Regions from separate parts of the Homo sapiens genome. Here regions 1 and 3 are each linked to region 2. Evidence: fine-mapped expression QTL. A gene starts in region 2. Each other region holds a variant in brackets. All regions are shown on one strand. Distances are between the middles of the regions.

Region 1 (10,724 bases), 45 kb after region 2:
GCCACCCACCCCTGCCAGCCCCTCTGCCGTGGGCAGCTTTCATGGTGACTGGCACTGATGGGCCCTGGGCTCTGACACCATCCACTCCACTCTGCTGGCTGGACAGTCTTAGAGATGGCTGGTCAGGGGTGCTGGCCCCTTCCCTTCTGTCCCCATTGGGCCCTCCGCCTCAGGGTCTGGGCCGGGTCCAGAAGTCAGCATTCCCCTCAGTGCCAGGAAGGCCATGCCGTAGCTTTAGCTCAAAGTCCTGAGCTGGCTAGGGTGGCAGGAACTGCCAGGGTCAGGCAAGTGGCTGGGGGCCAGCTGGGGTACAGGGAGGGTGTGAAAGGCCTTGTGTCCAGGTAGCCCCCTAGCCTAGGGCACCCTCTGCTCCAGCCTGGACATTTCTGGGGGGTCTCCGGGGTGATCTGAGAGCAAACATGGGGCAGGCCTGGGAGAAATCGGGCAATGGCTGGAGACATCTGGAGGCGGGTCTCAGCCCTCAGTCCTGGAGTCCAGGGGTGGCTGGAAATTGCCTGCTTTGGTAGTGGAATGTGTGTGTGCTGGTTGGGAGCCGGCCCAACTTGAAGGAGAGTGTGGAGAGAGGAGACAGAAAGGCGGTCCGAGGCACCCACAGGACAAGCAGTCCCACCACCCCCCATTGGGTAGATGGGTAAACTGAGGCCTGGGATGCCCTGTGCCCAGGGAGAGGCAGTGCCACCTACAAGACCCCTGGCTCAGCCAGGCTGGGGTAGAGTGCCGTGGGGGCTCAGGTCAGGGAGCACCGTTCCCCACACCTGCCTGCTGTGTCCTGTTTGGGCCGGGTGTCTTTGAGCTCCTCCCCGCCAGCCTGTTCCGTTTACCCAAGAAAACCCCTCCCCTCGGGAAATGATGGCCCTCAGAGATGCACAAAGACAGTCCCCAGCCACCCCCGCAGAAAGGTGCTATTTGCGGCAGTTAGGGGACAAAGGTGCCCGAGGCTGGGGGCGGAGCCGCCATCCACCATCGCTCCCTTGCACTAGTGCCGGGTCAGGAGGCTGGGAGAGGCCAAGGGGCCTGGCACGGCTTCCACAGCAGGGCCTCGGCTCCTGCCCCCACCACCTTGACCAAGGCACGCAAACCCCACCCCCACCTCGTCCAGCAAGGACTGTGCTCTGAGGCTTGCCGTGAAGGCGCTCACACACTCTGGCCGCTGGGGTCGCAGTGGGTGCGTCATCGGTAGGCGGCAGTGCGTGCTGTGGCCTTGCCCACCTATGGGACAGCGCGTGGCTGTGCCAGCATGCCAGCTGCCTTGGCGGGAGGCTGATTTCGGCTTTCTTGCAGCAGTGTTACAGCAGAGGCGCCTGTTACCGCTGAACCCATTAAGTGTAATTACCGCACTCTTGGTGGGAATATGTAATTACATTGGTGGCCTGGAGCCGTGGCACTGGCATCAAATGCTGACCTGCTAGGAGGCTGGGCCCTGGCTTGGTGGGAGGGAGGGTTCCAGGATGAGCTGCTGGGGTCCCTGGGGGAGGGGCTCCAGGCTGGAGTGACAGGTGGGGGCAGGGAAGGCCCTCGTCACCAAGCCTGTTCCCCTCCTACCGTGGCAGCTGCCCTTCCTGTGATCCCTGAGAGTTTGAGACACTCAGACCCTGACCCCAGTGCTGCACGCAGCACCCAGGACCTCCGCTGTAGTGAGCGTGGCCCGTGTTGGGCAGGGGGCGCTGCTGCCACCATCATCCGGGTCCCAAGCAGGCCTGCCAGGGGTGAGGGGGAGCCGTGGGCGCTGAGGCCTGTGGTCTGCGCCAGGTGGGTGCTGGGAAGGGCGGCCCCCGAGAGTCAAGCACAGGCCCAAGTCCAGAGCCAGGGGTGGGGGCGGCCACCGGGCTGCCCCTGAATCAGCTGTGAGAGGATGCCCAGCTCTGTCTCCTCCTCGGTTCCCACGTGTTGGTGACGGCAGGGACTGTCAGAGCTGGTGCCTGACTTCCCAAGGCTGTTCGCTGACAAGTTGGTGCTTTCCAAATGCCGGCTTCTACCTTAAGGAAGGTCCCTCCTGGGTCCACAGTCAGCTGACGGATTGCCTCTCCCTCCTTCCTCTGGTTCCCTGGTCAGGGTGGGGCCGCGCAGCCCTGGGACAGGGGCCCTGGAAAGTCTGCCCCGAGTTGTGCCACCGTCCAGGCCTGGAGGGTGGGACGGGGAGTCCTGTCCGGTGGGTTGCATGGCGGTGCCCCGACATTCCCCCTGCCCTGGGGCCCTCCCAGTTGCACAGGGTGCCCTGCCTACAGCCCCCCAGCGCGGGAGCCCTATGCAACCTGGGCCCCATGTGGGCAGCTAGGCCCTGGGAGTCTGAGTGGCCCTCACTGGGGCCTCACTACCGATGCGGCCAGCCCACCGAGGGCTCCTGCACCCCGCTTTCCTGATGAGCCAACGCCGAGGGCCAGGGGGCCGGGCCTGGGACCCTCACGGAGCAGAGCCCGGCCAGGCGCAGGCCCCAGGCGCCACCTGGTGGCTGCTTTCAGGAGGGGCGGCCGTCGGTCCCGAGTCCCCCACCCCATCCTGGACACCCCCACGCGCGCACACCCGTGGCGGGGCTCCGGCTGACCGGGTGGGCATTTGGAGGGCCCCATGGGAGCGGGTCCCGGGCCGCGCCGGTGTGCTCCTTAACCCGCGGCGACACATGGTTCGAGCACGTGAGCATGCTGGTAATCATGCTCAACTGCGTGACCCTGGGCATGTTCCGGCCCTGTGAGGACGTTGAGTGCGGCTCCGAGCGCTGCAACATCCTGGAGGTGAGGGGCGTGGGTCGGGGTGGGGAAGGAGCGTGGGTCGCTACGAGGTTTATGGTTCAAGGCGGAGTGGGGCGGGGGCGGGGCAAGGTTCAAGGTGGGGCGTGGAGTGGGTCAGGGTCGGGGATCAGGGCGAGGTTCACGGCGGGGCGCGAGGTGGGGCTGGGGGTGGGGCAGGGCGAGAGGCGAGGTTCAAGGCGAGGCAGGGCTCAGTTCCTGGGGCTCAGGGCGGGGCAGGGGCGGGGCGAGGGGTGTGGCAAGACTGGGGGCCGGGCTCTTGCGGGGCTGGGGTTGGGGGTTGTGGGCTGAGCTGAGCTGTTCCACGGGCCCTCCTGATGCCTCCTCCCGCAGGCCTTTGACGCCTTCATTTTCGCCTTTTTTGCGGTGGAGATGGTCATCAAGATGGTGGCCTTGGGGCTGTTCGGGCAGAAGTGTTACCTGGGTGACACGTGGAACAGGCTGGATTTCTTCATCGTCGTGGCGGGGTAGGCCCCGCCTGGGAGAGGCCACAGCGCTGGCGAAGGGGCCCCGCCCACCCCACAGGGATCCCTGTGTCCCACCTGTAAAGAAAAATGGGAGGTGTGTTCTAGAGGGATCCAGGTAGAGCCAGGGACCCTGTCTGGGACTCCGGAGACCCTCCCTCCTGGGCACAGGTGAGGGAGGTGGCCTCCTGATGTGACCAAGCGTTGTGCTCCTGCTACCTCGGGGCCCTTCCTGGCCAGTACAAGGTCCTCCGGGTGCCGGGCTGGCCGGTTCTATGCCTGCCCACCCTACTTTGCACCCCAGCCCCACCCTGGACCACCTGGGCTCCTTGTTGAGCTGCTCCCCCTCGGCCCCGCCCCCAGCATGATGGAGTACTCGTTGGACGGACACAACGTGAGCCTCTCGGCTATCAGGACCGTGCGGGTGCTGCGGCCCCTCCGCGCCATCAACCGCGTGCCTAGTAAGTGACCGGCCCCGACTGGGCTTGAGATCAACAGGCTTGCGTGTCCGCCAGCCCTGCAGAGCTCTCAAAAGGGCCCCCAGGAGCACAGGACTGGGAAATGAAGGTTACCAGGCACTCCGGCCCCAGCCCAGACCCCAGCAGTGGGGTGGCCCCTGCCGCTATCCGTGGGCCTTGCATGTCAGGGGAGAATCAAGCTGCGGTGTGGTGGGCAGTCAGCATTCACAGGGTACCTGGCTCCCACACAGCCGAGTGACAGGGGCCACTCCGAACCTCCGGTTCCTTCTCTGCATGGCATCTGGGGCAAGGCTGGAGGCCGAGCAGATCCCTGGTGGCTTTGCTGTCTGGCGCATCCTGGTGTGGCTCGTGGTGGAGACACTCTTGTGGGTGTGGCTCAGCTCACCTGGGGGCTCTGTGAAGCCCCGCCTTCACACCCACACAAGTGAGGGGAGAGCCTGACACCTGTCCTGAGGACACCTCGCTCTCCCCACCCGCCACTGCTTCTGGCCCCTACTCTCCTGCCAGGATCCCCACCTAAGGAAAGGGGAAGTTGGCTGGCCAGGGCTGGGCCTCCGTGTCCCCTGCTGAGCAGCTGATTTTCTAGAAGGAAGGCTGGAAATCCTTCAGGATTTGGCCAGCAGGTGTGAGGAGGGGGCCTGGTGGAGAGGAGCTGCTGTGTGTCTGCTGTGCGCTGGGTGTGAGGGGAGGCGGAGGAAGAGCTTCCAGGAAGTCATATGCCTGCTTGTTTGGGAAACATCCTGTCAAATCCGGGCCACCCACCTGCATCAGGGGATGGGGTGGGATCGTTCTTTAAGCACTCAGGGCTACATTCAACTGCTCTGGTTCCTGGGGGTCGGCGCGGCCCCCACGAGGCCGTACCAGGCGCGAGTGCATACTGCGTGTAGATGTGGCCCCGTGTGTGCACGTGCGGGTGTAACACAGCCTTTCTGGCTGCCTGACCTGGGTCCTGGTGGCCTTGGCACTCAGGGCTTGACCTGCAGCAACCCCCCAAAGTCACAGACCCCCAAGGCTAGGCACTCCTTCCCATGGGGCCTCTGGCTTCCCGAAGGGCAGGTGGGTCATCCTCGTGCCGCTGGTCCCTGAGCCTGCCTTCCACCTGCCTGCCTTGGCTCTACTGTGTGGCTCAGATAGGGCTTGAATACTGTGTGACTCTGAGCAACTAGCTGAGCCTGAACCTCAGTTTCTCCTGGAATAGTGCAGTACAGGAGTAACCATGACCCCAAGGGTGGCTGAGCGTGCGGTGAGGGGACGCGTGTGTGGCTCTTGGCCCTTTGCCCGGCACCCACTGTACGTTCAGTCTGCACGCCGGCCTGGCCCCACCTGTTGAAGCGTGAAGCAACCCAGCACACACAGCCCCTTCCTTCCATGGATGTTTACTTTTCAGGTTAAATTGCCAGAGTGGCCCTAATTGTCGCCAGCAGCCTGGCCTCCTGGGGATCTGCTCCTGTCTCTAGGAGAGAACTAGGGAACTCTTCCAGACTGGATAATACGCTTCTCATAATGAGGACACGCTCAGGGCTGCATCCTGTTCTGTTGGCTAGGGGTCCACTCTGACCTCTGGGTCATCTGTGATCTTTGAGGCGGTTGCGGTCTGGCCAGGGCAGTGCTCACTGATTGTCTGCTCCGGTCGGCTCTTTTGACACTTCAGTGCTCCTCCTGGCTCTGACTCACCCTTGTGACCTGAGGGGCCCGTTTTGCCATTGATACCCCTGGGTGCTGGGTGAGAACTCAGCGTCCCCAGGTTCCTGGCCCAGGGCTTTACCTGCTGCCTTAGCCTGGCCCTTGATTAAATTTGAGGGAAAGGACGTCTTGGGGGAGCAGGCCCAGGATGGAGCGAGGGGCGCGTGGGGCTTGGCTGACCCACTTGCTGGATTAATCTGGAGTTCACGTAGCCCATAGCACCCAGGACCGATGGCTTCAGTGCTACCTCCTGAAAAGCCGCTGCCGGTCCTCCCCACCGCCTCCAGCAGCCTCTCTCTGAGATGGGGCTCTGTTCTGGCAGGATTCTCACTGGGAATCAGACAAAGTTTTCAGGATCCCAGACCTGCTGCAGAGACCCCCAGGAGGCAGCCCACCACCTGAGGTTCTGGGGCTCCCAAGGCTCCTGCTGCCTTGGTGGCAACTTCAGGGTGTCGCCAGACAAGCCTCGAGGGCCACTGGGCTCCGCCTGGTCATCCCGAGCCCGAGATGCCACGTGGTCAGACCTGCCGCAGCCAGTTCCCTGCCTCGGCCAGTCCCCTGCCTCCACTCCTGCCCCTCCACACCCCAGCCCTCCAAAAGCAGCAGACCTGCTGCCCTGGGATGGTTGGAGGTGGAGACCTGGCGCCCCGCTGGATGCACGTCAGACCCCAGGGTGTCAGTGTCCCTGGAGGCCGGTGGTGGTAGGAGGGGAGTCCCGATCACACTAGGGGTGCGGGAAAATCACCAGGGGGTGGCCCGAGTCAGTGTGCAGTGGGCGTGGACACCCACTGTGAACAGTGGACGGGGCTCGGGGGTCCCGGGAGGGGCTGCAGCCCCGAGGACACTCCTGCAGGGCTTAGCAGTGCCAATCCTGGCCCTGCTGCCCACAGGCATGCGGATCCTGGTCACTCTGCTGCTGGATACGCTGCCCATGCTCGGGAACGTCCTTCTGCTGTGCTTCTTCGTCTTCTTCATTTTCGGCATCGTTGGCGTCCAGCTCTGGGCTGGCCTCCTGCGGAACCGCTGCTTCCTGGACAGTGCCTTTGTCAGGTGCCCAGGCCCCACCCCCGTGAGGCCCCTGCCCAGATGGCCCTGCCCACCATGCAGATAACGCACCATGTGGCTCCACCGCCCCACGTGGCTCTGCCCACCGTGCAGTCACCCGCCCCGCCACTGCTGTCCCCGTCATGGCTCCGTCCACCATGCTGTCTCCCGCCCCCACCCCCCATCATGGCTCCGCCCAGCTGGCAGTCACCGCCCCACATGGCTCCGCCCACGGTGCAGTCGCTGCACATATGCCCCACCCCCCACCATGGCTCCGCCCACCGCGCAGTCGCTGCACATATGCCCCACCCCCCACCATGGCTCTGCCCACCACGCAGTCGCTGCACATATGCCCCACCCCCATCATGGCTCCGCCCACCGTGCGGTCGCTGCACATATGCCCCACCCCCATCATGGCTCCACCCACCGTGCGGTCGCTGCACATATGCCCCACCCCCATCATGGCTCCGCCCACCGTGCAGTCGCTGCACATATGCCCCACCCCCCACCATGGCTCCGCCCACCGCGCAGTCGCTGCACATATGCCCCACCCCCATCATGGCTCCGCCCACCGTGCGGTCGCTGCACATATGCCCCACCCCCATCATGGCTCCGCCCACGGTGCGGTCGCTGCACATATGCCCCACCCCCATCATGGCTCCGCCCACCGTGCGGTCGCTGCATATATGCCCCACCCCCATCATGGCTCCACCCACCGTGCGGTCATTGCACATATGTCCCACCCCCAGTGCTGCCACCTCTCAGCCCCCAAGACAGGTTAGTCCCAACACTTCATCCCCTCCCCACACCCCAGAGTCCGTCACACCTTACCCCAGGGTCTCCCCTCGGCCCTTGCTCTG[C/T]AGTCTCTCCTCAGCCCTCACCCCGGGGTCCCCTCAACCCTCACCCCGGGTTCTCCCCTCAATTCTCACCCCCGAGTCTCCCCTCAGCCTTCACCCCAGGGTCCCCTGAGCCCACACCCCGGGGTTCCCTGCCCTCAGCCCTCACCCCTGGATCCTCTCAGCCCTCACCCCAGGGCTGCCTCCTTTCCCTCACCCCAGGCTTCCCTCCCCTCGTCCCTTGCCCTTTGCCCCTCATCCGCTTCCAGGAGTTGCTGAGGTCTGAGCCTGGGTTTCTGGCTCTTGGGTCTCCCTCCCTGTTTGTCTGTGCTGTTCTTTGTTGATTTCTCTGTCCATCCCTGTTCTTTGTGTGTTTGTCTCTGTGGACTTGGGCTGAGGAGAGTGTGGTTTCTGCAGCACCACTGTGTTCTTGACCCTGGTCCTGGCTGTGTCCCCTGATCCGGGTCTTGACCCTCAGTCCTATCATGCCCCCTGACCCTAACCGTGCCTCCCTAACCATGATTAGTCCACTGGCCCTGACCCTGATCACGTCCCTGACCTTGATCACGTCCCTGATCACAATCGTGCCCCCGACTCTGACCGTCCCTGACCCTGATTGTACCTTTTGGCCCTGGCTGTGCCCATCCCCAGGAACAACAACCTGACCTTCCTGCGGCCGTACTACCAGACGGAGGAGGGCGAGGAGAACCCGTTCATCTGCTCCTCACGCCGAGACAACGGCATGCAGAAGTGCTCGCACATCCCCGGCCGCCGCGAGCTGCGCATGCCCTGCACCCTGGGCTGGGAGGCCTACACGCAGCCGCAGGCCGAGGGGGTGGGCGCTGCACGCAACGCCTGCATCAACTGGAACCAGTACTACAACGTGTGCCGCTCGGGTGACTCCAACCCCCACAACGGTGCCATCAACTTCGACAACATCGGCTACGCCTGGATTGCCATCTTCCAGGTGGGCGGCAAGATGGTGGGACGGGGACCCTGGGGCACGGCAGGGGAGCGGGTGCAGGACTCGCCCCCCCCAGCCCAGACCCCAGGGGCACGGGGAGGAGGAGGAGGGGTCGTGCGGGCCCAAGTCAAGCCACTGCCCCCCCAGGTGATCACGCTGGAAGGCTGGGTGGACATCATGTACTACGTCATGGACGCCCACTCATTCTACAACTTCATCTATTTCATCCTGCTCATCATCGTGAGTGTGGGCGGCAGTGTTCGCCATGATGGGCCCTGGTGTTAGCTGGCTGGGGGTGGGGTGGGGTACCTGGGTGGTCATAGGGGCTCCTGTCTGTCTTCCAGCTGAAGGGAGCACACAGGGGAGGGAGGCAGAGCTTGCGGGGGTGGGGAGGTGTGGCTGGGGACCCCAAGAGGCCATGGCATCACCTAGACAGGGTCCAGGCCTGTGGGTGCTGGCTCAGGGCTGAAGAGCCAGGAACACCCTGGGGAGTGCATAGCCTCCCAGCACCGCTTTCCACGGGCGTGTGTGGCCCCAGGTGTGCTCCTTAGCTGGTCCTCTCATAGGCCCCAGTGGGTCCTGGCAGAGTTGGGTTAATCAGGCCGCAGACGTCTGTGGGGTCCTAGGTATACCTAGAGCCACCCTGCGGGGACCTAGTAGGTAACAGAAGCAGACAGACGTCCCCAGCTTGTTCTGAGAGAGCAAGCGAAGCGAACGATTAGAGACTTGCTGCACGCTGGTCCATGCTAAGGAGGAAACGCACCTGGGGTGCTGGGGAGGGGAGAGTGGCCACCGTTGAGAGGGTCATCTCAAGGCCAGATCTGCAGGTAAAGGAGGGGCCGAGCCACATGGAGAAGCAGGAAAGAGGGTTCCAGGTCTTTTGTCCAGATAGGCACAAAGCAGCTACTGTATGCCGTCTGCTCCAGACGTGGGGGCTCAGCACTGAACACCGCAGCAGCCTGCCCATAGCAGGGCACCTCGCCCACTGTGCCTGTGACGCGGCCCCCACTCGAACAGGCAGCGCACAGTAGGGCTCAGTGGCGAATCAGAGACTCGCTCACTCACTGCCACTTACCCGCCCGCCCCCGTCACAGGTGGGCTCCTTCTTCATGATCAACCTGTGCCTGGTGGTGATTGCCACGCAGTTCTCGGAGACGAAGCAGCGGGAGAGTCAGCTGATGCGGGAGCAGCGGGCACGCCACCTGTCCAACGACAGCACGCTGGCCAGCTTCTCCGAGCCTGGCAGCTGCTACGAAGAGCTGCTGAAGTACGTGGGCCACATATTCCGCAAGGTCAAGCGGCGCAGCTTGCGCCTCTACGCCCGCTGGCAGAGCCGCTGGCGCAAGAAGGTGGACCCCAGTGCTGTGCAAGGCCAGGGTCCCGGGCACCGCCAGCGCCGGGCAGGCAGGCACACAGCCTCGGTGCACCACCTGGTCTACCACCACCATCACCACCACCACCACCACTACCATTTCAGCCATGGCAGCCCCCGCAGGCCCGGCCCCGAGCCAGGCGCCTGCGACACCAGGCTGGTCCGAGCTGGCGCGCCCCCCTCGCCACCTTCCCCAGGCCGCGGACCCCCCGACGCAGAGTCTGTGCACAGCATCTACCATGCCGACTGCCACATAGAGGGGCCGCAGGAGAGGGCCCGGGTGGCACATGCCGCAGCCACTGCCGCTGCCAGCCTCAGACTGGCCACAGGGCTGGGCACCATGAACTACCCCACGATCCTGCCCTCAGGGGTGGGCAGCGGCAAAGGCAGCACCAGCCCCGGACCCAAGGGGAAGTGGGCCGGTGGACCGCCAGGCACCGGGGGGCACGGCCCGTTGAGCTTGAACAGCCCTGATCCCTACGAGAAGATCCCGCATGTGGTCGGGGAGCATGGTGAGGACCCAGCCCCACCCCACGGAGGAGGCGGTGGGACCTAGGCAGGGCGGGCAGGGTCTCCGGTGTGTCATTCCCACACCCATTGTGGGCACTCTGATGAGCCCAGCTTTGACTTGTGAAACAGACCAGCTATGCCTCTGGAGCCCATAAGAAGGGGAAAGAGGCAGGTCCCGCCCCTGACAGCGCCAAAGCAAGCTCCCGGTGGCCCACAGCTCATGGCAGGAGTGGTAGCCGCGGAGGTGGGATTTTGAATCTGACAAGGCTTGTCAGACCCTCCTGGGGCAGCATCCCATTGCCCCTGCCTGGCCCCGAGAGGGACCGTATGCTTGTGTCCACAGCCTGGACGCTTCCCTGGAGGACGTGCAGCGTCCTTCGTGGCCATTGAGGCTGGCCCCCCTTCTAGGTGGGGACGCTGAGTGGGGGAGTGTGGGGGAGGCACCGTCGCAGAGTCACCGAGAGTCAGGAAGAGAGGCTGGCGTGGGGTTCTCCTATGCGGGGCCTGGGCCTCTGTCCACCAGGTGAATGGGAGACTCCAGGGCCCCCAGATGGTAGGGTTCCACACGGGCCTGGGGGCCCTTCCTGGTTCTGTACACAGATGTAGA
Region 2 (10,724 bases):
CTCACGGTCCTACAGGCTGTATAGGAAGTACAGCGCAGGTATCTGCTTCTGGGGAGGCCTCAGGAAGCTTCCAATCATGGCAGAAAGGAAGGAGAACCCAAAAGTCACATGGAGGGAGAGGGTGCCAGGGAGAGGAGGAGGTGCCAGCTGCTGTGTGAACTACTGGAGCAAGAAAGCACTCATCATCACTGGACAGCAGCAAGCCACTCCTGAGGAATCCGCCCCTGGTGCAGACACCTCCCACCAGGCCCACTTCCAACCCTGGAAGTCACGTTTCAACATGAGATTTGGAGGGGGGGCCACACATCCAAACCAAACAAACCCTCTGCTTGCTAGACGTCTCCCCTCCCCCACCCCCCCTCCCCCAGCCCTTGGCAGCCACCCCTCTTTGTTCTATGGATTTACCTGTGCTGAAAATCTCATCTAATGATCCTATGATGTTTGTCATTTTGTGTCTGGCTTATTTCACTTGGTGTGATGTCTTCAATGTTCATCCACGTGTGTCAGAATGTCATTTTTTTTGAGACAGAATGTTGCTCTGTTGCCCAGGCTGGAGCGCAACGGCGTGATCTCTACTCACTGCAAGCCCCACCTCCCGGGTTCAAGCGATTCTCCTGCCTCAACCTTCTGAGTAGCTGGGACTACAGGCGCCCACCACCATGCCCGGCTAATTTTTGTATTTTTAGTAGAGACAGAGTTTCTCCGTGTTGATCATGTTGATCAGGCCGGTCTCAAACTCCCAACCTCCTGATCTGCCTGCCTCAGCCTCCCAAAGTGCTGGGATTACAGGTGTGAGCCACCGCGCCCGGCTGTGTCATTCCTTTTCATGGCTGAATAATATTCCACCATATGAAGAGGCCACATTTTATCTGCTTATCTGTGGGATACTTGGGATGTCTACACCTTTGGCTTTTGTGAACGATGCTGCTGTGGACACCCGAGTCCACAGTTCTGTGTGGACACACATTTTCATTCCTCTTGGGCACACCCGGAACAGAAATTGCCAGGTTGCATGGTAATTCCATATTTAATCATTTGAGGAACTGCCTGTTCATGATCACTTTTTATTTGATGAAGCATTGATTTTCCAGAGAAGGAAATTTAAGGCTCAGAGAGGGTAAGACACATGTCCAAGGCCACACAGCCAGGAAGTGGTGGAGCTGGCATTTGAACCCAGGCCGTGCGTCTGCAGAGCCAGAGAAAGGCCCGGAGCTTCCCTCCCCAGGTCCCCAGGCGGCCTGCGGGCCCCTCCACAGCCCAGTGATCCTTCAAGCACTCCCAAGCCCAGCCTCCGCCTGCAGCCCCTCCACAGCCTGTCCAGGGCAGGGAAGGGCCACCTCACAGGCCACGGCCTCTTCCGCGCAGTGCCTGGGGGCCGGTCTTGGGGACAGTGGCGTGGTGCCCCTGCCTCTCCCGTCTTCCACACAGACAACTGCGAAGGTGAGAAGGGTGAGCGGCGTCTAGACGGCGCTGTCCACCCAGCGGCAATAAAATCGGATGTTTCCGCACACAGCACCGTCACAGGCTATCACCGTTTAACACGGCAACTCTTAAAATCATTGCTGCTGCGTCTAAACCGTCCTGAGCTCACAGCTGAGCCCAGGAAAGGGCTTGGGGTGCGCGCCAGCCGGCAGCCACCAGGCTCCCCATCCCACAGTGTGGGGTCATGCTTCCCGCCCAGCACGGTCTCGAGGGTGGTGGATCCCAAAATTCCTTGGGATGCCAGCGCAGTCCCTTCAGCCACCCAGTCAGCAGGTATTTATTGGCACCTACTGGATGCTAGGCAGGAGCAAAGGACACTCACCTGCTCCCCACTCCAGGGTCTCGTGTCTCTGACTCCATGGCAGGACAAAGGTGAGAGCCCGCCATGCTTCGGGGCGACCTACCGGGCTCCGTCCTGCCCTTGAGTCTGCGGCTCAATGGGGCCCCACCGAGGCTGCTCCCAGGGAAGAAGCATTCTGGCCAGGCAGGGCCCGAGCCTGTGTCAGTGAGAGGCCCTGTTGCCTGCCCTGGAGGCCGATCCCTGCAGGGGCCAGTCTAGGCAGGGACGCCCCTCTTGTCTGCATATTCCCGGGGCCTGGCTTCCTGGCCGCGTGGGCAGCCTCCTTGGTGGCGGTGACCTGGGTCCCCGGCTCACAGGCCACACGTAGCAGCAGAACCCAGAGCTGGCTGGGAGAAGGGGTCTCACTGGACACCAGGCAGTGACCGCCACGGCTGGCTCTCCAGGCTTTGCCAGGAGAGGACTCTGTCCACCAGCCCTTGGTCCAGATTCTGGCAGACCAGCCACGGGCCCCACTGCTACAGGGAGCTGAGGACCAGTCAGGGCGTGCCTGTCCCATCGCTGCCATGCCGGGCCCCACTGCCGACGTCCTCCTTCCCCTGGGCAGCGTGGGGGATGCTGAAATCCGTGGGAGACCCCGAGAAGCCCACCCCACCTTCTTGGGTTCCGCCACATGATGGCTGAGCTAGGAGGTCACTTGTACTCTCTCCCCGCAGCTCTTTGTCAAAGAAAAGCATTGCCCTTAAAAACAACCCCGGCCAAAAAAAGAAAAAAGGAAACAGCGAAAACCAGAAGCAAATTTTCCAGAGACCTGGAGGATTAGAAACAATACATCTGAACGTTCTGGAGTTGAATTAAACCATCTCAATGCCGGTTTCCAACCGTCCTGGGCTTCTCTCTGACGCTCAGCGAAGGGCGCGCATCACGGCATCACCGCTCTCAGGACGATTTCCCGTCTCGTCTCACTGGACCGTCTGCCGTTTATGTCCTTTCTCGGTGGAGGCCCTCACGTCGCGTTGAGGTGGTCCCCGCTCCGGCTGCGTGAACGCGGCCTCAGCTGCCTCATCTTCCGGCAGATGGATGTTCAGAGCAGGGAGCATCCATGTTCCAGGCGTGCGGGCACCTGTCCCGCCGGACGTGGAGCGTGCAAGTCAGTGGGCAGCAGCCCAGGGGACACAGAGCCCCCAAGGACAAGGTGGGCACGCCATCCGATGGGCTGGAGTGAACGGAAAGCGGTGGGAGGCAGCCTCCGTCCCAGACCTTGAGCTGGAAAATGCCCGCCCGGGTGCTGGAGAGGCTCCAACTGGTCTGCAAATTGTCCGTGGGATGCCTGGCGACTGCACGCTTTCTCAGATTACAGACACTTTCTTTAAAAAAAATCTGTGGGCCGGGCGCGGTGACTTACGCCTGTAATCCCCATACTTTCAGAGTCTGAGGCAGGCGGATCACGAGGTCAGGAGTTCAAGACCAGCCTGGCCAACATGGCAAAACCCCGTCTCTTCTAAAAATATGAAAATTAGCTGGGCATGGTAATTACATGCCTGTAATCCCAGCTACACGGGAGGCTGAGGCAGGAGAATCGCTTGAACTGACACCAGGAGGCGGAGTTTGCAGTGAGCCGAGATCACGCCACTACACTCCAGCCTGTGATACAGAGCGAAACTATGTCTCAAAAAAAAAAAAAAAAAAAAGTCTGTTATAGAAGTCCGTGGTCTTTTTCCCTTCTGCCGACATCTGGAGGACAGAGTGTGGCCGGGAGGGCAACAGCTGCTGTGTTCAGAATTCCAAGATGCTTCCCAGGCGCCCTCTGGGTCTTCCCGCTCCCCGGCTCCCTCCGGCCTGCCACAGGGCCTTTGCATGGGCTGCCGTTGCTGCTGGAAAGAGCCTCTGCTCCTCTTCCGGCTGCCGGCTTGTCCTCACAGAGGCCCCGCCCTCGTCTATCTGGGCGCCCCCTGGCACTTAGTTTGGAAACTGTTTTCTCCTCCCCATAAGACGGAAGCTGCAGGCATGAGAACCGGGTCTGTCTGGTCACAGCCAAGGCACCTCCACCCTCCAACCGGGCCCCGCGCACTGTCCACCCTCAACTACCATTTGTCCAGCAAATCAACGACAGCCCCCAGCTAGAATCTGGAGCTTCAGTCTGTGGCTTTGCCTTAGCTTTAATTAATTAATTAATTAACTTATTATTTTTTTGAGGCAGAGTCCACTCTGTCACCCAGGCTGGAGTGCAGTGGCGTGATCTCGGCTCACTGCAACCTCTGCCTCCTGGGTTCAAGTGATTCTCCTCCCTCAGCATCCCGAGTAGCGGGGATTACAGGCATATGTCACCATGCCTGGCTAATTTTTGTATTTTAGTAGAGACGGGATTTCACCATGTTGGTCAGGCTGGTCTCGAACTCCTGACCTCAAGTGATCCACACACCTCGGCCTCCCAAAGTGCTGGGATTACAGGCGTGAGCCACTGCACCTGGCCCACCCTAACTTTTAACGAGCAGGGTGTTGATAAAAAGATCAGAGGTTCCAAGTGCCCTCTGGACCGGACTCCGATTCAGCGTTTGTGTCTCCCCACCTGCTCCAGCCTCCCTCCACGGATGTGTCCAAAGCACGGGGCTCTCCTAGGTCCTGCTCCTCTGTGGCTGGAACCTTAATTGGACCTTTGAAGGCCTAATTCACCAGCTGTGGCCCTCCATCGCTGAGTAGTTGCATTAAAATAGACTGAATGTTTTCCTTTTCTTGAAAGTTCCCGTATACAGGAGGAGGTGCTGCTGAAAGGACCTGTACCCCAGCCAGGCCCCCACACTCCTGCCTTCCAGTTCCTCGGCCCACCCCAGGTGCTGTGTGTCCTTCCGGGCCCCAGCTGGGCAGGGCCTCTTCTTCACCCTGCACGATGTGGCCCACCCGGGGGAGGTCCTGCTTCTCTGCTGCTCACCCGCAGGTGGGAAGCCACAGCCGCCCCACAGCCTCTCCGGGTCTGGGGTCTCAGGGTGCGCCCTGGAGCAGGGCCTCTTTGTCTGGAGGGAGAAGGGGTCTCTCCCACTACCAGGGGCCCCTTGTTGGCGGGCGTGCTGAGGTGCACACCTGGGAGCTCAAGCTCCCTGGTGCACAAAGCAGTGGTCCCAGAAGCAAAACCACCCTTCCAGCCTGGAGGGGTGCCCTGGGGGGAGTCAGGAGCCTGGGCACCTGCCCCCACCTGCTGGCACCTCGAGGTGCGGCCAGCCCTCCCTGGGACAAGGGCCTGGCCATCCCCAATGTCTGAAGGGTCCACCCCTTCCCGACCAAACCACTTGCTCTGAGGGTCCAGGGGAAGGCCCTTCTGCTGGCCTGGCTGAAGGAGCAGCTGCTGGCAGGGGGAAGGGGCCTGCACTTCTCCTCGGGGGCCCCTGGGTGAGTCTCGCTGAGGCAGCGGGGTTGGAGGATGCAGGAGCACCAGGCTGCCGTCCCCAGGGTCCCCCAGATCCCCACGCGGGAGGGGACCGGAGACGAGGACAAGTTCGCGGAAACTGCCCGTGCGTGTCGGGGAGAGATGCGAGTGCAGGAGCGCCCAGCCGTAAAGCACACCCCCGCCCGCCCCCGCGCCCCATCACACACGCGCGCGCGGGCACACCCGGGACACACACGCGGCGGGGAAGGGGCACGCAGCCTCTCGCCTTCCACGCCCGCCCGGTCCCCGCCCCTCCGCCGACCCGGGCCCGCGTCGTAGTGGGGGTGGGGGTGGGGGCGGCGGCGGCGCGCGCGGCAGCGCGAAGGGGGAGGGGGAGCCGGAGCGGGAGGGGGAGGGGCGCGGCATCGGCGGCTCGGCCGCCCCCGCAGTTGGGGGCAGGGAAGGACGTAGGTGCTCCCCCTCCCACCCCGCCGGAGCCTCCCGCGAGCGCCCCCTGGTGCACCCCACGCCCGGCATTGTTGGGGAGCACGAAAAGCGGGGAGCCCAGTGCGGGGGCGTGGAGGGGGCGCGGGCGGGGTCCAACTTCCCGCACCCGGGGGGGGGCGGGGCGCCGGGCGGCGACAGGGAGGGGTCGCTCGGGCGCGCGCGTCTCGGGCCGGGGGCGGATCCTCCCCAGTACCCCCCCGCCCGCCCCGCCCCCGGCCCCGCCCCGGCCACGCTGGCCCCGCCCCGGTCGCGCCGGCCCCGCCCCGCCCCGCCCCCCGCCGCTCAGCCCGAAGTTTCCTGCGCCGCGCGCGGACGGGCTCGAGGCTCGCTCGCTGCCTCACCGGTCCCCGGCCCGCGCCCCGCGCCCCGCGCCCCGCGCCCCGGCCTCACCCGTCCGCTCAGCGGCCTCCACGCCGCGCCGAGGCCGCCGCCGTCGCCTCCGCCGGGCGAGCCGGAGCCGGAGTCGAGCCGCGGCCGGGAGCCGGGCGGGCTGGGGACGCGGGCCGGGGGCGGAGGCGCTGGGGGCCGGGGCCGGGGCCGGGGGCGGAGGCGCTGGGGGCCGGGGCCGGGGCCGGGCGCCGAGCGGGGTCCGCGGTGACCGCGCCGCCCGGGCGATGCCCGCGGGGACGCCGCCGGCCAGCAGAGCGAGGTGAGACGCGGCGAGGACGCGCGCCCGGGACCCTCTTCAACTTGCGCGAAGCGGGCCGGGGAGCCCCTCGGGGTGGGGGTGGGGCCGCTGGAGGGAGGGAGGGGGCGGGCGGGGGCGGGGGGCGCGTTTGTCTCTAATAAGAAAAGACAAAGACATCCCGGCGGCCGCGGCTGTTCCCGCAGCTCCGCGCCGCGGGAGGCAGGGCGGGGGCGTCGCCACCGGCCCCGGGTCACCCCCTGTCCTCTGCAGGTGCTGCCGGCCGCCACCATGACCGAGGGCGCACGGGCCGCCGACGAGGTCCGGGTGCCCCTGGGCGCGCCGCCCCCTGGCCCTGCGGCGTTGGTGGGGGCGTCCCCGGAGAGCCCCGGGGCGCCGGGACGCGAGGCGGAGCGGGGGTCCGAGCTCGGCGTGTCACCCTCCGAGAGCCCGGCGGCCGAGCGCGGCGCGGAGCTGGGTGCCGACGAGGAGCAGCGCGTCCCGTACCCGGCCTTGGCGGCCACGGTCTTCTTCTGCCTCGGTCAGACCACGCGGCCGCGCAGCTGGTGCCTCCGGCTGGTCTGCAACCCATATCCTTCCCGGCCGGCGGGGGGCGGGGGGCGGGGGGCGTGGGGAGGGTGGGGGCCCGGGGCGCGGGACTCCCTCGGCATGCGCCCCCGCGCGCCCCTGTTGGTGGGACCTGGCGTGGGCCGGGCGCGCGGGGGTGCAGGGCAGGGGCTGGAGGACCGCGCTCTAATTTCTGAGAGTGGCGGGCTTGGGGGGCCACCGGGCGCCTCCGGACTCCCTTCCCCAGGGCCGGCTCCGGACGGAGAAGGTGGAAGCGAAGCGGTGAGGCCCCCGCGGGCTTGGAGGGGAGAGGAGTCGGGGAGGGAGGGAAGGTCCTAACTCCTCGCGGCCCCAAGGGTGTTGGCCAGGACGGGAATTTCCCCCTTGCCCACCCCTCACTGTCTGAAGGTCCTGCCCGAGGCAGGCCCCTCGCGGGGGAGGGGGAGGCCAGAGGAGCTGGAGTCAGGGGCGCAAAGTTTTCAGCCGGCGCCTGGTGGTTCCGAGTGCGTGGGGAGACCCGTGGGGCCTGTGAGCGCCGCCAGGGCCTTTTCCGTGGAGAGAGGCGGTGACGTTGGTTGTGAACTCGCTTTTTCTGGCTGAACTCGGTGGCGGGGCTGACTTAAGTCATGCGCAGCTGAAGGGTAGGGGGCAGGGAGGCAATTGGCACTGCCAAGGGGGAGTCTCATCTCCCCAGCCCCTTCCCTGGCTGGAGAGGAAGAGGCAGCCTCTTCTACTCTCGGCCAGAGCGGCACAGACTGCAGAGAAGGTTCCAGAACAGAGTTGGGTCAGGGCCAGGGGCATTTGTGGGATGTACACGGAGGTCCAGGGGGCCCCCCAGCAGGTGGCCTTGGGGGCGGGTCTCCGCGTGCCCTGAGAAGGGCCTTGCGTGGTGCCTGTGTCAGGGCCGGGTCTCCCCACCGGCCCTTCTGAGCCGGCAGCTGGGGTGGCCAGGCCGTGGCTTCTGCTCCGGGCCTGGGGACGGGTGGAGAGACCCTGCCCGCAGACGTCCCCCGTCGGAGGTGGGGAGACAGGCTGGCAGCAGGAGCGGCCTGTGTACACTTCCCTACCTTGTGTGTTTAACTGTACAAATATTAAACACGAAAGAGGAATCTGTACAAAAAAAGTCATAAAGCCCGTGTTTCTCCTTTCTCAAATCCAAACATCGAGTGAGTCAGACTCATCTCTGCTTGTAGAGGAAGAGGAGGCTGCTGTGGTCCCGGGGGCAGCCGGCCCCGGCCAGAGGGCTGCCTCGGAGCCCCACACCCGCTGCCCGGGCGGCCTAGGCCTCTGTAGCCTCAGGGTGGTGTCTGCGAGTAGGTGGGTGTCCCCGGGAGCCGAGGTGCAGGCCCGGCCTTGAAGAGCGGTTGTAGGTTTGTCTCCTCTCTAGAACCAAGGCGGGAGGTGGTCATGCCCCTTTGTTCTGGTAGGAGGTGACTGGGTGTGGGGTTAGTCCGGCGGTGCCAGCAGGCCATGGGGAAGGGTCTGGAAGGGACTGCATGGGTTGGAATGGGAGGCTGGCCCCGAGCCAAGGCCTGCGTTCCTTGTTTCCCAACGTGTGCAGACCGGAGAAGGGAAAGAGTTGAGCAAGCCTGGACTCTCTCCTCACAGCCCCGGGCCTGGCTGCCCCATCCCCAAGCAGGGCATGGACTCTCTTCACAGCCCCGGGCCTGGCTGTCCTGTCCCCTCTCGGCTGAGAGAGTTTTGGAGCCTGGCCCCGGTGTTCTGGGCTGGCTGTGTGTCTCAGGACTTCCAAGGAGGTTGTTTGCGTTGCTGTGTGCAGGGAAGGTGTTGGCTGGGTGGCCTCATGCAGGTGGGATGAGCTCTCCAGGGGGAGAGGAGGGCTGGGGCCAGCGGCATCACGTGACCCAAGCGCTGTCCCCCGGTGTCCTGAGGAGCTGTCCTTTTGGGCTTTGTGACCTGACAGGAGTATGCTCTGGTAGCCCGAGAGGGACTTGGGTGCTGTCCTGGTCTCGGGGGCTGGATGGTGCTCTCAGCCTGGGAAGAACAGAGCATGCCCCATCCCTGGTGTCCCCAGGGCTCTCTGGGCTGGGAGAGAATGGGTGGTCGGCCTCCTGCCCTTCGATGGCATCCCTTGCTTGGAGCACTGGGTCTGCCTGCGGCACGGCAGGACCCCCCACCCTCCTCGCCGCCAGCACCTCTGGCACGCTTTGGCTCTCCCAGCTCCAAACGCAGTGATGGGGGGTGTCCCCACTCCAGGAGACATGGGAAGCAGAGCTTAGACCCCAAGCTTGGTTCATTCTTGGCCCCGTGGAAACGCCCGTCGGTCAGGTGGAGTGGGCTTGTGGAGGCCCCGGCTGCATGGGGGTGGGTGTGACCACCAGCAGATGCCTGGCCTGTAGCGAGGGTGTGTGTCCTGGCGTCAGAGAGAACCTAAAATAAGCTGGCAGGCCTGGACAGGTGGGGGGATTGGCTGAGCCGGGGAAGCCCATGTGGGCCATGGCTGAGGCTTTCCAGAGCGCTTCAGATTCCTGGGAGTTGGGAGGGGGAGGCTTTGCAGGAGGCGGCAGGGGCGGTGGGCGACTGGTGTGGCTGGGGTGTGTCCCGTAGCAAGAGGGTGCTTCCTGGGCCTCAGCCTCCCCTCCCTCCGCAGGGCCCCGCATCCCTCCTGAAGAGGGTGAACTCTGAGAGGGAGGGATAATCGGATTTGCTCAGGGAACCCACACTCAGTAAAGTGACTCCATGCTCCCGGGGGTTGGCAGAGCCCCAGCTGCTGTCCGCCGGGCCCAGCCTGAGCCGGGGTTCAGTCAGCACAGGAACCTGGGGGAGGGCCCGCGTTTATCCCTGAACCTCTCCTGAACCCCGGGGTAGACGCTCAGCACCAGGGAGCACATGCGTGCTGGCTCCATCTCCAGGGTGACTCCATCCCAGGCAAAGGAGCCTCCAAGGACGCCCTTATCCTTATTGATTGGTTTCTTAAAAATATAATTGTCTTAGAACTTTTGGGGCGAGCGCTGCTTCTCCTCCACAGGTTTATTTATAGAGAAAGGTGGGTGGGATCTGTGTGTTGTCGCCCGGCTGGGTTATGTGCTGCCCGGACTCCCGGGGTTCCTGACTCCGCGTTCGCCTGCGACACAGCTGCCGCCGTCCCGGCACACGGACGGGGCGGGGCCCCCGGGAATGCTTGGAGGCCAGGAAGGGGGACCCTGCTTCGGTCCCTGCGAGAGCGAGGGAGGCGGGCTGTGGGTGTGTAGGGACCAGAAGGTGACCAAGGGGTGCTTGGGGGCTGGGGGTTGGCAGGACCCCCTGGGAGGCGTCTCCCGGGGCCCAGGCTCCAAACACCCCGTGTCACGGAGCTCTGAGATGGGGAAGGATATATCAAGGTCATCGGGATGCTGAAGGACAGAGCTGGGTGAGCCCATCCTGGCTCTGAGGGCCACGTGTTTGGCAGAGCGCTGCCTGGGTGGGGACGAGCTGCGGGAGCCTGAGACAGCCCTTCATGGCATCTCTGAACACTCGGCGCTGGGGCTGTCACGCTGCTCCGCGGGCGTCCCCCGGGAGTGTGAGAGGGCACCCGTCTGGAAAGGGCCAGTCCCGCCTGCGCCCGCCTCCCCGGGCTCCACGTGCCCCGCAGGCCTCTCGTGGGCAGGACGGGGCTGGTCGTCCCCTACTGACCTTGCATCGTGGGGACCCTCTTGAACACTTTGTCTTAGCAGCGTCCGGACATCCGAACTGGTCTCAGAGGGGCTGCCTCAGTGGTCGGAAGTCACAGGCCCAGGAGGGCCCAAAGCTGTCCCTTGACCCCTGGGCCTGAACTCCAAGCTGGGGGTCACTCAGCAGGGTGGGGCTTGGCAGAGTCTCCGTTACAGACTGGACGTCCCGTCCCTTCTGCCTGGGTGGACCAGGGTGTGAACTCGGCCGTTGCG
Region 3 (5,267 bases), 55 kb after region 2:
ACGGCATCATCGTGGTCATCAGGTGGGTCCCCACCCTCTCCCCAGGAAGAGGGGCCCGGGAAGCTCCACTCTCTGGCAGAAATCCCACCTGCAGAGCAAAACCCAGAGCACAGGAGGAAGTACGACGATAGCTCTTTATGACAGGCCGTGGGAAGCAGGTGCTTGGTGACCCCAGTGGCCCAAGGGACCGTCCTGGGCAGAGTCCCCTCCCCAGACGCTATGCTTCCCTGCAGGCACTACGGGGTGCGCACCTGTTAGGTCAGCTGCGTCTCAGATGTTTCTAGAAACTAGCGGAGCTGTTTCCTGCAGGAACAAAGCAGGTGTGGGGTGGCCTCAGGGCCGAGCGAGAAAGACCAGCTTAAAAGGCTGAATCCTGCTTGCTGCTGGAGGAGCATTTGCTACAAGAAAATTAAACCAGAAAGGATTGGGAAAATTTGAGGGGAAACGCCCCCGGTCTTCCCCTAGGAGGACGCTCATCCCTCAAGAGTAGAGAGGGGTGCAGGGTCTCCCATCCTGGGGCGGGGAGGGAGTGAGCAGAACGGACAAGCCAGGTCTGGCTGTGGAAGGCCCAGGATAGGAGAGCGCCCTCGGCGAAGGAGCTTCCCTGCCCTGGCCAGAGCCAGGCTTCTTTCCCAGGGGGCACTGGGGGCCGGGTAGCCCCCGGGGCCATCAGCGGATAAGCGGCTTTTGAGGTGCTTCCGCAGCTGTTCATGCACCTTGATGCAGCCATACCCTCTCCCATCTGTGGGATGCAGCACAGGCCGCTGTGGCTCCCTGGCTGGTGACCCTGCTTCCAGTGGGACGAGGGCCTGGGGTCAGGGATCGTGGCCCCGCTGACCCTCGCCCCCACCTGTCCGCAGCGTCTGGGAGATCGTGGGGCAGGCGGACGGTGGCTTGTCTGTGCTGCGCACCTTCCGGCTGCTGCGTGTGCTGAAGCTGGTGCGCTTTCTGCCAGCCCTGCGGCGCCAGCTCGTGGTGCTGGTGAAGACCATGGACAACGTGGCTACCTTCTGCACGCTGCTCATGCTCTTCATTTTCATCTTCAGGTGGGCGCAACCCCCCTCCCGGCCCGCCCAGTGTCTCACCCCAGGGCAGCTGGGAGGCAAAGGCCCAGGGCACCCCCCGAAGGAGAAGGAGCCCTCCCACCAGCAGCCCCAGAGCATCTGCAGACACTCGGCCTCTGCTGCCTTCATTTGAGAAGCACTGATTGGGCCCCTACTGTGTGCCACGTGTTAGACATGCAGGGAGTCAGATGGCAGGGGTCAGAGATGGGCCGCCAGGTGGACAAGCTGGGGATTTACTCAAGAGCAGAATACCGGGGGTGGGGGCAGGCACCAGGCTCCAACTGGGGTGTTCTGAGCGCCTGCTGTGTGCCCGTCTAGCCTGGAGCTCAGGGTCAGGGTCGGCTGGAGGCTAGGCAGCCAGGCAGGCCGGGCTTTCACAGTCCAGAGAGGCTGAATGAGGCAGGTGTCCCAGGTTCCAGTTGCCACCCAAATCCAGAGTGGCTTCCCTCTGTCTGTCCCGCCTCTGGTCTTGGTTCTCTCGCCTGTGGAATGGACACTACTGAGTTGTAGGGCAGGAAGTCCCTTTTAAGCTAGAGAGCTCGGGCGCCCAGGGAGGGTAGGAGGCCAGGAGAGCCAAGACGGGCAGAGCCAGTCCTGCCCCTCCCTCCTCCCACCCCCCTCCCGCTCCCCCACCTTCTTCCGCTCAGCACACCCCTGCCTCCACCCTCAACACGCCCCTGCCCCCACCCTCAGCATCCTGGGCATGCACCTTTTCGGCTGCAAGTTCAGCCTGAAGACAGACACCGGAGACACCGTGCCTGACAGGAAGAACTTCGACTCCCTGCTGTGGGCCATCGTCACCGTGTTCCAGGTAGTGCCCGGGGTCCCCGCAGCAGTGTTGGGTGCTGAGTGTGGTCCCCAGAGAGGTGGAGGTGCCGTCCTGCGCATCCATAGCTGCCTCTGCCCCAAGGACTTGCCGGCATTTCGGGGCTGGGGTGACCACCCCAGGCCCCCTGCTATCCCCCAGATCCTGACCCAGGAGGACTGGAACGTGGTCCTGTACAACGGCATGGCCTCCACCTCCTCCTGGGCCGCCCTCTACTTCGTGGCCCTCATGACCTTCGGCAACTATGTGCTCTTCAACCTGCTGGTGGCCATCCTCGTGGAGGGCTTCCAGGCGGAGGTGAGGGGGCAGGGAGAGGGGCTGCCAGGAGGAGGGCGATGAGAAGAGAGACGGGCTTCAGGTCGAGGGGAGGGGTGTGGGGGGCCTGCCAAGAGGTGAGGGATAGAGAAGGGAAGCTGGCTGCCATGAGGAGAGGGGAGGCCAGGAGCCCAGCGGAGTGGGCAGGGGTCGGTCGGGAGAGGCAGATTCCTCACCTACCTGCCCACCCTGGCAGTGACATCATCCTCTGGGCCCTTCTGTCCACACCCCACCTCCCAGGCCAGCCCAGACTTCTGTCCGGCATGAAGGGTCCCCACTCACGGGGCCCCTCATGCCTGCCTTGTGCTTTGTTGGGTTTAGGGCGATGCCAACAGATCCGACACGGACGAGGACAAGACGTCGGTCCACTTCGAGGAGGACTTCCACAAGCTCAGAGAACTCCAGACCACAGGTGCGTGTGGTCGGTGGGTGGTCCGGGTTCTGGCGGGTGGAGTACGCTGGGCTGGCCGGGCAGGGCCCCCATAAGGCAA[T/C]CCCTAGGTTGGGGGATTCCTGGTCCTGGGAGCCTGGCAGCTCTAGGGGCCCATTCCTCCCTCTGTCCCGCAGAGCTGAAGATGTGTTCCCTGGCCGTGACCCCCAACGGGCACCTGGAGGGACGAGGCAGCCTGTCCCCTCCCCTCATCATGTGCACAGCTGCCACGCCCATGCCTACCCCCAAGAGCTCACCATTCCTGGATGCAGCCCCCAGCCTCCCAGACTCTCGGCGTGGCAGCAGCAGCTCCGGGGACCCGCCACTGGGAGACCAGAAGCCTCCGGTAGGGACCATCTCCTGCCCCAGCTCTCAGGCCCCTTCAGGTTTTCCCTGCCTGGCTCCTTATGGCCTTCCCTGAAGATGAGTGAGGGCCGCACCCCCCACACCCTTGAAGTCCCAGCCTGTGCAGAGACTGAGAAAGAGTGTTCTGGTTTCCGGAAATGGAAGCTGTGGCTGCTGTTGTGTGAGGCCGGTGTGAAGGGGCAGACGCGGAAGCTCTGTGCGCCCAACAGTCTAGCAGAGTGCACAGCGCACAGCACAGAAAGACCGAAGCAAGCAGGGGCAGAAGCGTGCCCGGCAAGCAGACGGCAGGCCAGGCGGGGGTTCCGCTGCCACCAGAAGCAGCCCGATTCCCTTTACGGCCAGGGCATCTCTCTGGGTCCAGGGGGACTGGAGGGGAGCAGTTTTGAAACGAACTCCAGGCAGTACCACCCACAACAGACACGGAGGATGGGAGTGAGCCAGACGCCCTAGCAGGGGAGGAAGCGGGGCAGCTGTGAGGCAGAGCCGCAGGCCCAGTGTGCTCCTGGGGACACGGGGGCCACCCACACTTTGTCTGGTCCTGGGCTGGTTCTGGCCCCTGACCCAGCAGAGCCCAGGGCATCACCCCCGCGAGGCGGACACCCTGACCCTCATGAGCTACGCCTGTGGCTGGCTCGGTGTCCCCCTAAAATCACAGCCTCCACCGTGCCTCCCTGGCGGGGCTATGCATTAAATGATCCACGTGTGGCTTGCACACAGTGGGTGCTCCGTAATGACAGCGGTCGGTGCTAATAGTGATGCCACCAGGTCACTGACTCCCGCCACCCCCCAGGCCAGCCTCCGAAGTTCTCCCTGTGCCCCCTGGGGCCCCAGTGGCGCCTGGAGCAGCCGGCGCTCCAGCTGGAGCAGCCTGGGCCGTGCCCCCAGCCTCAAGCGCCGCGGCCAGTGTGGGGAACGTGAGTCCCTGCTGTCTGGCGAGGGCAAGGGCAGCACCGACGACGAAGCTGAGGACGGCAGGGCCGCGCCCGGGCCCCGTGCCACCCCACTGCGGCGGGCCGAGTCCCTGGACCCACGGCCCCTGCGGCCGGCCGCCCTCCCGCCTACCAAGTGCCGCGATCGCGACGGGCAGGTGGTGGCCCTGCCCAGCGACTTCTTCCTGCGCATCGACAGCCACCGTGAGGATGCAGCCGAGCTTGACGACGACTCGGAGGACGTGAGTGCGTGGCCCTGGGCCCACCGCCGACTCGCCTTCGTCTGTCTGGGGCAGGTTCCCTCAAGTGGGGTTTGAGATGGGATTCAGGGCGTGTTGTTGACTGAGGGGATTCAGAAGGGGAGAGAAGCAGGCCAGGCCAGGGAGGAATCCAGCAGTGTTCAGGGATTCAGCCACAGATGATCCCAGAGTCCCCCCTCTGCCGTCTAGGGGCTGTGAGCTAAACGCTCCACGCACGGCCTGCATACGGGGGCTGGGCTCTGCGCCGTGGGTCAGCCACTGGCCGAGAGCTGCTGCCGAGGCAGGGCCAGGCATCCGCTAGGCTCTCAGGCTTCCGTGGGTCAAGGACCACTCCCAGAGTCAGGGACCCAAGAGCACCCGCTCACCTGGCCCCGTGGACTCCAGCACGGGTCACTCTGCCGTCACCAGCGTAGGGAAGGGGGAGGCTCCACGGTATGGGCCCCAGAGGCCAGAAAGCCAGAGCCCAAAGGCCAGCGGGTGAGGAGTGAGGATGGAGAAGGCTGAGAAGGTGCTGGGAGGGGTGGCCGAGCTGAGCACAGAGGGCCCTGATGGGGGGCCGGGCAGGCAGGCGCAGGCTCTGAGAAGCCGCCGCCTCATCCCACAGAGCTGCTGCCTCCGCCTGCATAAAGTGCTGGAGCCCTACAAGCCCCAGTGGTGCCGGAGCCGCGAGGCCTGGGCCCTCTACCTCTTCTCCCCACAGAACCGGTGAGGCGGCCGGGTCAGGAGGCTGCATGGCTAGTTCCACCCCACGGGACCCCCGCCCCCAGGTCCCTCCTGGGTGGGGCTAGCACATGGTGGATATTTCCGAGTGGGCACCCCTTCTCACACCGCAGGGACCGGGGCTGAAGTGGAGGCGTGGCCAGGGCTGTCCTGCAACCCCCATCCACTCTGCCATCCACGCCGCCCCGCCCCACCTCTCACCCGCCCCCGCCCACCCAGGTTCCGCGTCTCCTGCCAGAAGGTCATCACACACAAGATGTTTGATCACGTGGTCCTCGTCTTCATCTTCCTCAACTGCGTCACCATCGCCCTGGAGAGGCCTGACATTGATCCCGGCAGCACCGTGAGTCAGCCAACCCC

What was found. PIP is the estimated chance that this variant, and not a neighbour inherited with it, causes the effect.
Region 1: its variant is fine-mapped to the expression of CACNA1H in CD4 T cells (BLUEPRINT, PIP 0.95).
Region 3: its variant is fine-mapped to the expression of CACNA1H in whole blood (TOPMed, PIP above 0.99).

Annotation. Positions count from the first base shown.
Region 1 is chr16:1,192,334-1,203,057 of GRCh38, forward strand. It overlaps CACNA1H (calcium voltage-gated channel subunit alpha1 H), which reads left to right. Exons shown (of 35, transcript NM_021098.3): 3 at 2,639-2,750; 4 at 3,099-3,232; 5 at 3,593-3,690; 6 at 6,282-6,441; 7 at 7,923-8,238; 8 at 8,383-8,475; 9 at 9,330-10,119. LOC124903623 (a long non-coding RNA gene) reads right to left here and starts at 9,378. Exons shown (of 3, transcript XR_007064938.1): 1 at 9,311-9,378; 2 at 8,999-9,056; 3 at 8,473-8,888. RefSeq lists enhancers at 5,686-6,245, 6,246-6,803. The variant C/T (reference allele first, on the strand shown) is at 7,296.
Region 2 is chr16:1,147,174-1,157,897 of GRCh38, forward strand. It overlaps CACNA1H (calcium voltage-gated channel subunit alpha1 H), which reads left to right and starts at 5,933. Exons shown (of 35, transcript NM_021098.3): 1 at 5,933-6,297; 2 at 6,547-6,863. The coding sequence starts at 6,565. LOC124903622 (a long non-coding RNA gene) reads right to left here. Exons shown (of 2, transcript XR_007064937.1): 1 at 10,474-10,724; 2 at 9,799-10,016. RefSeq lists enhancers at 4,832-5,412, 6,787-7,554.
Region 3 is chr16:1,205,244-1,210,510 of GRCh38, forward strand. It overlaps CACNA1H (calcium voltage-gated channel subunit alpha1 H), which reads left to right. Exons shown (of 35, transcript NM_021098.3): 11 at 1-22; 12 at 861-1,046; 13 at 1,758-1,875; 14 at 2,032-2,187; 15 at 2,527-2,617; 16 at 2,770-2,978; 17 at 3,789-4,169; 18 at 4,792-4,892; 19 at 5,127-5,250. Among named protein-coding and RNA genes, the nearest start is that of TPSG1, 17 kb to the right of the region's middle. The variant T/C (reference allele first, on the strand shown) is at 2,697.